Homo sapiens: one gene and its partner. The protein of the gene in region 1 purifies or fractionates together with the protein of each later gene. This does not show direct contact. Each region holds a gene or a part of one and is shown on either strand. Other genes may lie near its edges.

The links. The genes of interacting proteins can lie anywhere in the genome.
Region 2: the proteins of HK3 (region 1) and NADK2 fractionate together in Homo sapiens (co-fractionation; one large-scale study listed by BioGRID). This does not show direct contact.

The regions. Positions count from the first base shown.
Region 1 is NC_000005.10:176,894,854-176,900,827, forward strand, and holds the start of HK3 (hexokinase-3), read right to left. Parts: upstream 4,494-5,974; 5' UTR 4,414-4,493; intron 1,333-4,413; 5' UTR 1,307-1,332; coding exon 1,211-1,306; intron 1-1,210. UniProt on the Homo sapiens protein: Catalyzes the phosphorylation of hexose, such as D-glucose and D-fructose, to hexose 6-phosphate (D-glucose 6-phosphate and D-fructose 6-phosphate, respectively).
Region 2 is NC_000005.10:36,228,426-36,232,771, forward strand, and holds part of NADK2 (NAD kinase 2, mitochondrial), read right to left. Parts: intron 1-4,346. UniProt on the Homo sapiens protein: Mitochondrial NAD(+) kinase that phosphorylates NAD(+) to yield NADP(+). Can use both ATP or inorganic polyphosphate as the phosphoryl donor.

The DNA of each region.
Region 1 (5,974 bases):
GCAAGCTCTGCCTCCCGGGTTCACACCATTCTCCTGCCTCGGCCTCCCGAGTGGCTGGGACTACAGGCGCCTGCCACCATGCCCAGCTAATTTTTTGTATTTTTTAGTACAGACAGGGTTTCACCGTGTTAGCCAGGATGGTCTTGATCTCCTGACCTTGTGGTCCGCTCACCTCGGCCTCCCAAAGTGCTGGGATTACAGGCCTGAGCCACTGCGCCCGGACTTTTTTTTTTTTTTTTTTTGAGATGGAGTTTTGCTCTTGTTGCCCAGGCTGGAGTGCACTGCCACAATTTTGGCTCACTGCAACCTCTGCCTCCCGGGTTCGAGCGATTCTCCTGCCTCAGCCTCCCAAGTAGCTGGGATTACAGGCATGTGCCACCATGCCGGCTAATTTTGTATTTTTAGTAGAGACGGGGTTTCACCATGTTGACCAGACTGGTCTTGAACTCTTGACCTCAGGTGATCCACCTGCCTCGGCCTCCCAAAGTGCTGGGATTACAGGCGTGAGCCACCGCGCCCGGCCATAGGCAAGTCCTTTATCTCCATTAGCCTTCAGGGGGTGGGGAGGATTAGACTTTATTTTCCTCCATTTTACTGATGAGGAAACAGAGACTAAGAGATATGAAATGGCTTACACAAGAGTTTCCTGCTCAAGGGTGTGGTATGAGACAGCTTCTAAATCTTGGTCAAGATGACAGAAAAAGAAGAAACTCACTTCTGAGCAAGCCTCAGGCATGAGTTTGGCACTAAAATCGTCTGTGTGCCTGATTGTAGCGGCTACATTGAGGGAGACATGCAGGAGGAACTGGAGAGGCGGGAAAGGAAAGGTCTCAAGAACACAACTTTTGACCAGATAACCCTGAGAAAGTCCACTCTAGACTGTGTCACCCACTTGGGGCGGGAGCGGCACCTGTGTGGCAAGGTGGCAAAAATGACATGTTTGGAGCTGAAACACCTCAGCTCAAGCTCCTGTCATGTCTTAAACTCAAGTCATAACACTTCTCTATATCCCTCTTCATCACCTGTAAGATGATCAGCCCAACCTTGCAGTTGTTTGGAGCATGAAAGGAGATCGTTACCAGCTCAGATATGAAAAGCTCAGTGGAAAGGGGCTGCATGGGTGAGAGCCCAGGGCCCCATGGCAGCTTCAGTCACGCTGCTCTTGAAGGCCTTAGACAAGCATGAAACAGGAACCCAGTGCTGAACTTACCAGCTCTGAGCTGTCTGAGGGCCCGGGCAAGCCCTCCTCAGAGCAACTCAGGGTTTCTTCCCCCTGCCGCAACCCTGAAGACCCAATGGAGTCCATGAGCTTCCACAGTGGAAGGTGGCCACCTATGGGAGAAAAGGGACAACCTGGGTCAACCATTTACTCTATAGGCCCTAGGAGTCTGTAACCCAGACCAACTTCCTTCCTTCTGAAGGGGACCAGGAAGGAAGCTGGGAGCAGAATTCAGAACCTCCAACCATCAAAGATCCTGTAGCAGTCAACCAGAAGGCCCTTGTTTTTCACAAGCATGTCTAATGAGAGAGCACTGGAAAGGCTGATTTCAGTCCAAATGCCATTCGTTAATTCTGTCATTCATTGACATTCACCAGTTCCTGATGCCTGCTATGCTGGACGTTGTGGTACAGATGAAGCAGACCTAGGCCCTGCCCTCAGGGACCTCACAGTCTCATCAACAATCACAGTATGATTAGCACAGGCAGTGAGCAAGATGGCCACATGTAATAGATGGACATGCTGCTGTGGTTGGGAGGTCAGGGACATGCTAGAGGCTTGGAACAAAGAGGGAACCAAAGACCTGCCAGAGAAGCAGGCAGGCTGGAAAAGGGACAGCCATTGTGCCAGGCTAAGGCACATGAATTTCATCCTGAAGGCAACAGGGGTCATGGACAGGGGTGGATCTGTGCTTCAGAAAGGGGTTCCACTAGTGACCTGACCTTGGACGTCATTTATGACTTCTTTGAATTTCAGCTTCCATCCATAAAACAGGAGGAAATAATATCTACCCTCACAAGGTTGTTGTGAGCACTAAATAGAATAACACCTGGGGAAATGCTTTATGAGATGTAGTGTGCAACATAAACATCAGGTGGGTTTTAACAGTGAAGTGATGCAGAGCAGAAAGAGCCCTGTACTCAGAGGTGGGAACCCTGCTCTCCACAAGGCAGCTGCACCCCATCTCAACCTCCAGGCTTTTCATCTGTGAAATGGGACCAACATGTATCAAAGGGTTGTGTGGGGCAAATGAGATCACGAGAGCAAAGGAACTTGCTCAGATGTGCATTCAGATTTATGTAGTTGAATCTGAACTGAAACTCTATGATTCTCCATTTCCTCTATAACATGAAAAGCTCAGTTCTTGTGAGGATTAAAGGAGTTAGTGGTCCTTTGCACACTGTAAGGAACTGTAGAAATGTCAGATACTTCGCTCATCCGAGCTGGAGGTGGTATTGCTGTTTCCATAGTCCCAAGGGAGCCCTCAGTGAGTCAGGTGCTCTTTAGGGGTGGGGGAAAAGGGAAACACAGCAGAGGGCCCAATATGGGAAGAGACATCTGTCCACTGAGTCACTTTACCTCCCTTCCTTGCAACAGCAGAACTTCTGGAAATATAGTACCTTCCCACCCCTACACTCCCCTCCTTGCCTACTCCCACTATGCTCACTAATTTGCCCTCCACGTGGTCACTGGTGACCTCCTAACTGCCCAATCCCAAGCCTTTTCCTCAGTCCCCACCTCTGCTGCCCTCTCTCAGGCATGCAAAGCCAGTAGTCATTCTCTTTGCTACAGAATTCCCCCTGTCCTTGGCTTTCACGGCCAGTCTCTCCTAGGTCTCCTTCCTGAGTCTCTCGTAGTCTTCATCAGTAATTTCTGTTCCTTCAGACAATGGGGTTCCCAAGTTTCGGTCATGCCCTCCCTCTACACTCCCTTTATCTCGCCCATTCCCAAGGTTTCATTAATAGCTGTGTCAGGGCTCCCAAATCTACCTTTGGCCTCAGCCAAATCCTAAATCCCAGTGGTCTGTTAGACATCACTATCTGGATGGTGGAGAAGCTCCTCAAATTCAACAAAGCCATACTCATTTTTCCATCACCTTACCCCCACAAAGCTCTTCTGTTCTCCACCTTGACTGGAGACATCGAAGTGTGCTCACTCACACGGCCGTTCGGGCTGCCTGCGCGCATCCCTCACCCTCACCTCCTCTATGCAATTGGATCTCAGGCTCTCTAAGAGCTCTCCTCTGCATCCCCTCCTCCCCATTCCCACACACTGCACCAGACCATCCTCCGGCCTGATTATTACAACAGCCTCCTAAACTGATAGCTCTGCTTCTAGTTTCTTCACCTCCTTACCCCACCCAACTTGATCACCTCTGCACTCATGGCCGGCACAGGGTCTGGTATAGGTATGTGCTAATGTGCCTTTCCAAAATTGGAAGCAAGGGGAGTGGGTAGTTTTTTATTTAATAAAGCAACAAATCAGCTTCTGATAAATCTCCCCAAACCATACATACCTATGCTGAGTTTCCAAATCTGTCAAATAGGGGTGTGGAATTCTTGTTCTATGCTGCAGGTCTATTTCAAGGATAAAATGAGGTAACTGGGGCAATTACCTTCGAAAAGGACTAAGGGCTACACACGTGTCTTTCTCAAGGCCCAGCTAGTTCATTTATTCATTCACTCACTCATTCATTCCCTCATCCATTCAATATTTATTCAGCATTTTTACATGACAGAATCTGTGAAGCAATCCCCAAGTAGCCCTAATATTTATATGCTAGGTAAATGTATTCAGCTCTGTCTCTTCCCACTGAGATTCCCTGTGGGGAGGGACATGTCTCCTTCACTGCAGTATCCCCAGAGCCCAGGGTCTGTTTGCCTAAGGGCCCCGTGGCTTCCCTTAGCTGAATGGGCTACACGAAGTGAGTTTTCCTCCTGAAAAGTACCCCAGGGACCTCTACTGATGTTGGGAGCTGCCATCGAGAACCAGCTGGCAGGCTGGGTGTGGTGGCTTGCACCTGTAATCCCAGCACTTTGGGAGGCTGAGGCAGACAGACTGCTTGAGCCCAGGAATGTGAGACTAGCCTGGGCAACATGGCAAAACGCCATCGCTAGAAAAAAATAACAAAAATTAGCTGGGTGTGGTGGTGTGCGCCTGTAGTCTCAGCTACTCCGGAGGCTGAGGTGGGAGGATCACTTGAACCCAGGAGGTCAAGGCTGGAGTGAGCCCTGACTGTGCCACTGTACTCCAGTCTGGGTGATAGAGAGAGAGACCCCATCTCAAAAACAAAGAAAGAGAACCAGCTGGCTTAATCTTTCCAGTGTCCACTTCCCCTGGTGTGAGCCAAACAGGAGGGATGAGGACAAGACAGCTGTGGAAGGAGCAGGCAGTAATTAGACCGAAGTGCTTACCTGGGACACAGAGAAGCTAGTCACTCTCCTCAGGTCTGAGCTCTTGTCTGGCAATATGAGGCACCCCAATGACCAAAAGCAACACTCAGGGGTGACCCGAGTTATAATATCCTCAAGCCCCACCCTTTTCCTCCACCACCACTTACCAAACATCAGCTAATTCAGGAAGCTGCACTTCCTTCCAAGCCTGCCCTAAGAGTAGCCCAGGCTAGGCAAGGCTGTGGTGAAAACTTGAGCAAGATGATTACCGCGAAGTGGAGCGTTGAACTGGGTCTAAGATTTTGGGCCATTCCCTCTACAATGCTGAGGGCTGTTTATTTTGCAAATATAGTGAGTTCTGAGGTGGTGGCTCGCCCCTAGAAGGAGCTGGAGGCGCCTAGCCTGGAAAGGTTATGGTAAGTACTTTTGAGCAAGAGGCAATGTGGGAGCACAAGCGGAAGGGACTGACTCTGCCGAGAGTGGGCAGGGCTAGCTGAAGAAGCTGAGTCTTGAAGAAAGAACAGCAGTATGCTGACAAAAGTGGTCCTTGACAAAGTGGAGAGCATGTGCACAACCACAAATCACACACACACAGCAATGAGGTGCAGCTCCAGGCGCCTGAAGAGGGTACACCAAGGTAGGAATATATAGTGGGAGAGGAGGTGACAGGCAGACTGCGGAGTCTAGCCTTTAGTCTGTAGCCTGCGCAGGGAGAGTAGGTTCACATCTTAGGTCTTCTCTACTGGAAGAAGGGGAGTGTTAGGCTGCTGTGGAGCTATTGGCGAACAAGCTGTTTTTCTGTGGGAATTTCTCCTCAAAGGCACAGAACCTTGGGGCACCAATGTAGAATACTAGACAGCCTGCAACAATCTTTGTTGAAGGCATGGATACACTTTAAAGCTTCAGGCTGCCTTGTCAGCAGTAACTCTATCCACAGATAGTAGGCCTCCACATGACATCAGGATGGAGACCAGAGATAGTGGCTCCTCTATCAGTAGTGGCATGAAGAGGCCAGGAAACATGCCAAACATCAGTCCTGCTGTGAAGTTTACTGGGTACCAACCAGGCATATAGGCTGTGAAAGGCAGGGAAGTGGGGGATGGGGTGGCAGAGGGTAGAGTGGCTGTCACAAACAACACAGCATCCTGCCTAGCCTGGGATCCCAGTCCCTTTCAACTTTGTTCAGTTGGGAGAGGAGAATGTGGAACTGACTATGAAAGGCCCAGCTGTGATTCATGCAGATAGCCTGCCATTTCTTGAGCCAGGGTGAGGATATGCCCCTGACAAGCATGGCCAGGGCTCTTCATCTGCGTTTCTGGAAGGTCTGTGTCCAGACCCCAGGAGCAGGGGTCCTGGTTCCCTAGTCAGAATGCCAGGGAAAGTCTGGGTCAAGGCCAGTGGAGGGAGAAGGATGGCTGAGCTTGAGGTCTGTGAGCAGCTGGGACAGCCTGGCTGTAGCAGAGGCACTGCAGCTGCCAGCGGTTCTCTTCAGACACCAGATGGCCACTGACCAACAAAGGGAAGGACAAGTCCTCACGAGGTTCCCTCATAGCCCCTTAGTGCCAATCTCCAACTGTAGAGA
Region 2 (4,346 bases), about 140 Mb from region 1:
TTTTCTTTTCTTTTTTTTGTTCTTGAGATGCTGTCTTGCTATGTTGCTCAGGCTGGTCTTGGACTCCTAGGCTCTAATGATTCTCCTGCCTCCGTTTACCAAGTAGATGAGATTATAGGCACGTGTCACTGTGCCCAGCTTATACCTTTCCTCTTTATGTAACAAAATCAGTCTTTCAAATACCTGTCTAGACATGATTTTTTTTTTTTTTGAGACGGGGTCTGGCTCTGTTGCCCAGGCCGGGGTGTGGTAGTGTGATCTCAGCTTACTGCAACCTCTGCCTCCCGGACTCAAGCCGCCCTCCCACCTCAGCCTCCCAGGCAGCTGGGACTACAAGTGCACACCACCACAACCAGCTAATTTATTTTATTTTTTTTTTTGGTAGAAATGGGGTTTTACCATGTTGCCCAGGCTAGTCTCGAACTCCTGGGCTTAAGCAATCCACACACCTTGCTTCCAAAAAAGCTGGGGTTACAGGTGTGAGCCATCACACCCAGCCTAATATACAATCTCAAATATTTTGTTTTAAATCATTACTTACTGAACTATAAAGTAAAACTAATTTTTAGACAGCATTTTAATACATATTTTACTTTTTAAAGGTTATAAAGAAAACACTAACAATATGGAAAATGCATATTTAAAGAAAATTGAAATCAAATATAATCTTATGGCTCAAAATCATTAGTGTTAATATTTTGATACCTACCTTCCCCATCTTTTGCCTACGAATACTGGGTTAAGAGTTTTTAAATAGTTTTGTCCTTGCTTTGTAATTTTCGTTATGTTCTCACAAAAGAGAAGCTGAGGAAGCATTTGGCTATTGTGAAAATTAATTAATAGATGTTAACTTACCAAGATATACTATAATAGATTAGACAGCCTGTGCCAAAATTTAATGCCTAGCCAAAAGCCTCATTAAACTTAGACTAAGCAACCAATGTCAATAATTTTTTAAAGGAAAGCACTGACTATGATAATAACTAGAAAAATCCTTCATTTAATTTAATCAACAAATCAACATGAGTCAGTAAGGTTTGAAAAACTATTTTAGAGTAGAATTTCTTAATATGGACCAACAGAGCATGAATATTCAGATTACCACTATCATTACCCAGCTACAGATTGACTAAAACGGCACTAACCACCTCTCAGTGAGTATGGACCACTACCCTCTCCCTTGGCAATCTCTAGTTTCACGGCTTTAAAAGAGATCTATATGCTGATGCTGATGATTCCCAACTGCTATCTCCCAACCCGGCCTATCTTTAGAGCCTCAAATACATTTATTCAACTGCTTATTTGACATCTTTCTTTGGCTATCTAACAGGCACCTCAAATTTAGAGGGCTAGATATTGAACATGCTAGATACTGAATACTTGAAATGCTATTATTATTCATTCAGTATCTAGCATGTTCAATATCTAGCCCTTGATTTTCTGGCCCAAGAATTCCCCACCTATGGCTTAAGCCAACAGTCTAGAGTCACAGCCGATGCCTCCTTTTTTGCTTATTTCCACATCCAATTACTAAATCTTATATTTGATCCAAGCACTTTTCTCTTCTTCCCCTCTACCACTCATGATCTCACACGTGAACCACTGCACAAGCCTCTGACAGGGGTTCCCTACTTCCACTCTTGGCACCCTATAGATTATTCCGAACACAGAAACCAGAGAGACCACAGCATGTCTCTTCCTCAGCTTAATGCCCTTCTACAAATGGCACTTTCTTCCTACCAACTCTCAGGCTTATGCCACCTGACTTCTGCTCCTTTCTCCTACCTCATTTTTCCTCCCCATTCCCAACACTCTAATCTCTTTGGTCTATTTTCACCAAGCTCTTCCTTTGTACTTGCTGGAATGCTTTCCATCCCTCCACCTAACTCTGACTCTTTTTAACCCTGGGGTGCCAGGACTGCTGAAACAGCTGCTGCTAGTGCTGCCCTTGCAGCTGCAACAGCCACCACTGCCAATTACTCCATCCCAACACCTGTTAATTCCCTTTTTTGCATTTACCACACCTAAAATTTCCTGGTATTTTTAAAAAATCCCTTTGAATCTCCTTACTAGAATATAAGTGCTGGGAGAACAGTGATCTTACTTATCTTGTTTGCCATTGTTCCTCAGGGCCTAAGTACTAGCTAAGTATTTGTTGAATGAACTCATGCATACATTTTCCAGAAAAGCAAGAATAGTGCAGAAGCAGATGCTACAGAAGATAACCCAGAAAGTGACAACAGTGTGCAAACCAACCCTTAGAACTGAGGAGAGTTAGATTAGTTACTATAGTATATTATTTTGTTATAATTATCTCTTACAATTCCACTTTAGGCGTGAACACTTTACACAGCTAGAAGTTAAGCTCTAAAAAAAATTCATCTAAATATTTGACTGCCTACTACTGTGTTCATTTAACTACTAGTTGAACTTAATCAAATGTATTAAACAAGGCACTGCAAACTGCCAAAGACAATGATAACTAATTCAAATGCACAATAAGCCTATTACAACAGTTATATCTAATTTACCACTTCTACTTTAAATAAAACTTCAAGGGTAGCTGGCCCTCATACTTCAATTCCCTATCCAGGATTTTTACCTTATGTTCCAAATTTTGGTTTGGACAATATGGAACATGTACCCAGGAAAAAAGCACATAAACCTTACTGTGTAAGCCCTGTAAATGCTAGTCTGGTAGTTCAGAAACTTTTATGCTTACTTCCTGGCTCTCGGCAAGCCCCAGGAAAATAAGATACATGGCGTTGACTGTTAGGGAACTTTGGCTTGAGATGGCGAAAGGGTCTGAATTTGTGGGAGAAAAAGTTTTGGAGAACTAACAAAAAACTTCAAGTTTTCTATGATTGCTAACAATAATAAAATTCCTAAAATTCCAAATCTAAATACAAAGTTCAGGCAGCATCAGAATACTTAACATTGAAGCAGAAATGTCAGTTCATAAATTCTTATTCCCACTCAAATTTCTTCTTGTGAACTAACTTTCTAATAAGTCATCCTCAACATTCATTTAGAGAATGTAAGTTCTTATTTTCTTTAAAGGCCTCGCTGGTTGGGCTATTAAGCTTTATTAACATGAACTGGCTAAATGAGACAGATAAAAAATAAGAAAATCACTTAATAAACAGCATCAATTAGAAAGGCTTAAATCACTATTCAACTGGCTTTAATTCTTCCCTTACATTCAATCGCCACAGCCAGTGAGTACTGAAGTCCAATAATTATATTTGTTTAAAAGGCATATGCAAAAGCTGGTAAGAATTTCTTGCTAAACCTTTGAAAATAACATGACTTCAAATATCTTAAAACACTCCTTTAATCAGACAAAAATAAGAACACATGATTTCTTAGACAATGTCTTACCATTAAAAGGTTAGAGAAATTACTGAAATTTAGAACACATTCCCAATTCTCTGCAATGTTACACAACATTATTAGTAACAGTCTTTAATATTTTCCCCAAAAACCTGTTAATTCTTCTCTCCATTAAAATAAATAAATAAATAAATAAAGATTCACCAGGACACTTGGAAAAAGCAGGTGACTCCATGAGATCTACAGACAGACAGACACATTTCAATATAAGCAAGAGTTTCTCCTACAGAATCTCCGAAAGCCAAGATCATGTCTCCCCACACAGCTCTGATATTAAAATAAAGCACAACATGTAAGGAAAAAAGCAAGATTTTGAATGGATAGATTTAGCACACTTTAAGATCCAGATGTGATAGTTATGCTATTACCTAAATGGTTTATAACACCTTTATTAAATTATCACAGATGGTTTTACTTATCTAAAACTAAATTTATTGCAATTACAAATTTTTAAGACTTGTTTTACCAGTCAGTTGAGTATTGCTATTTTGTACTCTATGTAATTTCTATGATAGCTTAATAAGGGAAGGAGTTAAGTTTTTTTAAATTTAACACATAATAAATGCACAAACTTTTGAGACAATGACAGTTCAGTATGTCAATCCACTAGGCATAATTTAGGCACCCTTAAAAGCATACACATTTAACTAAATGGTACTCTAAGTGTTACTCAAAATTGCCTTAAAAAGGTTAACAGCACCTAATCAACACCTAGATACTCAACCATTCACCTAACATGATCAGACCTAGTGCACTGAACCCTAAAGACTTCTTCACATATATTTGGTATTTATCTTAGATCATCTCTATTCCACTTACTTTCTCCCAGGCTCTCACCTTTATTTTCCCCAACGTTCTCTATTTCTGCATTCCTCTGTTAATTCTGTTGACCTCCTCCCTTGATATTGCTTGAGGTTCCAACTTTGGTTTTCTTATCTGCTCTCACTTCATTT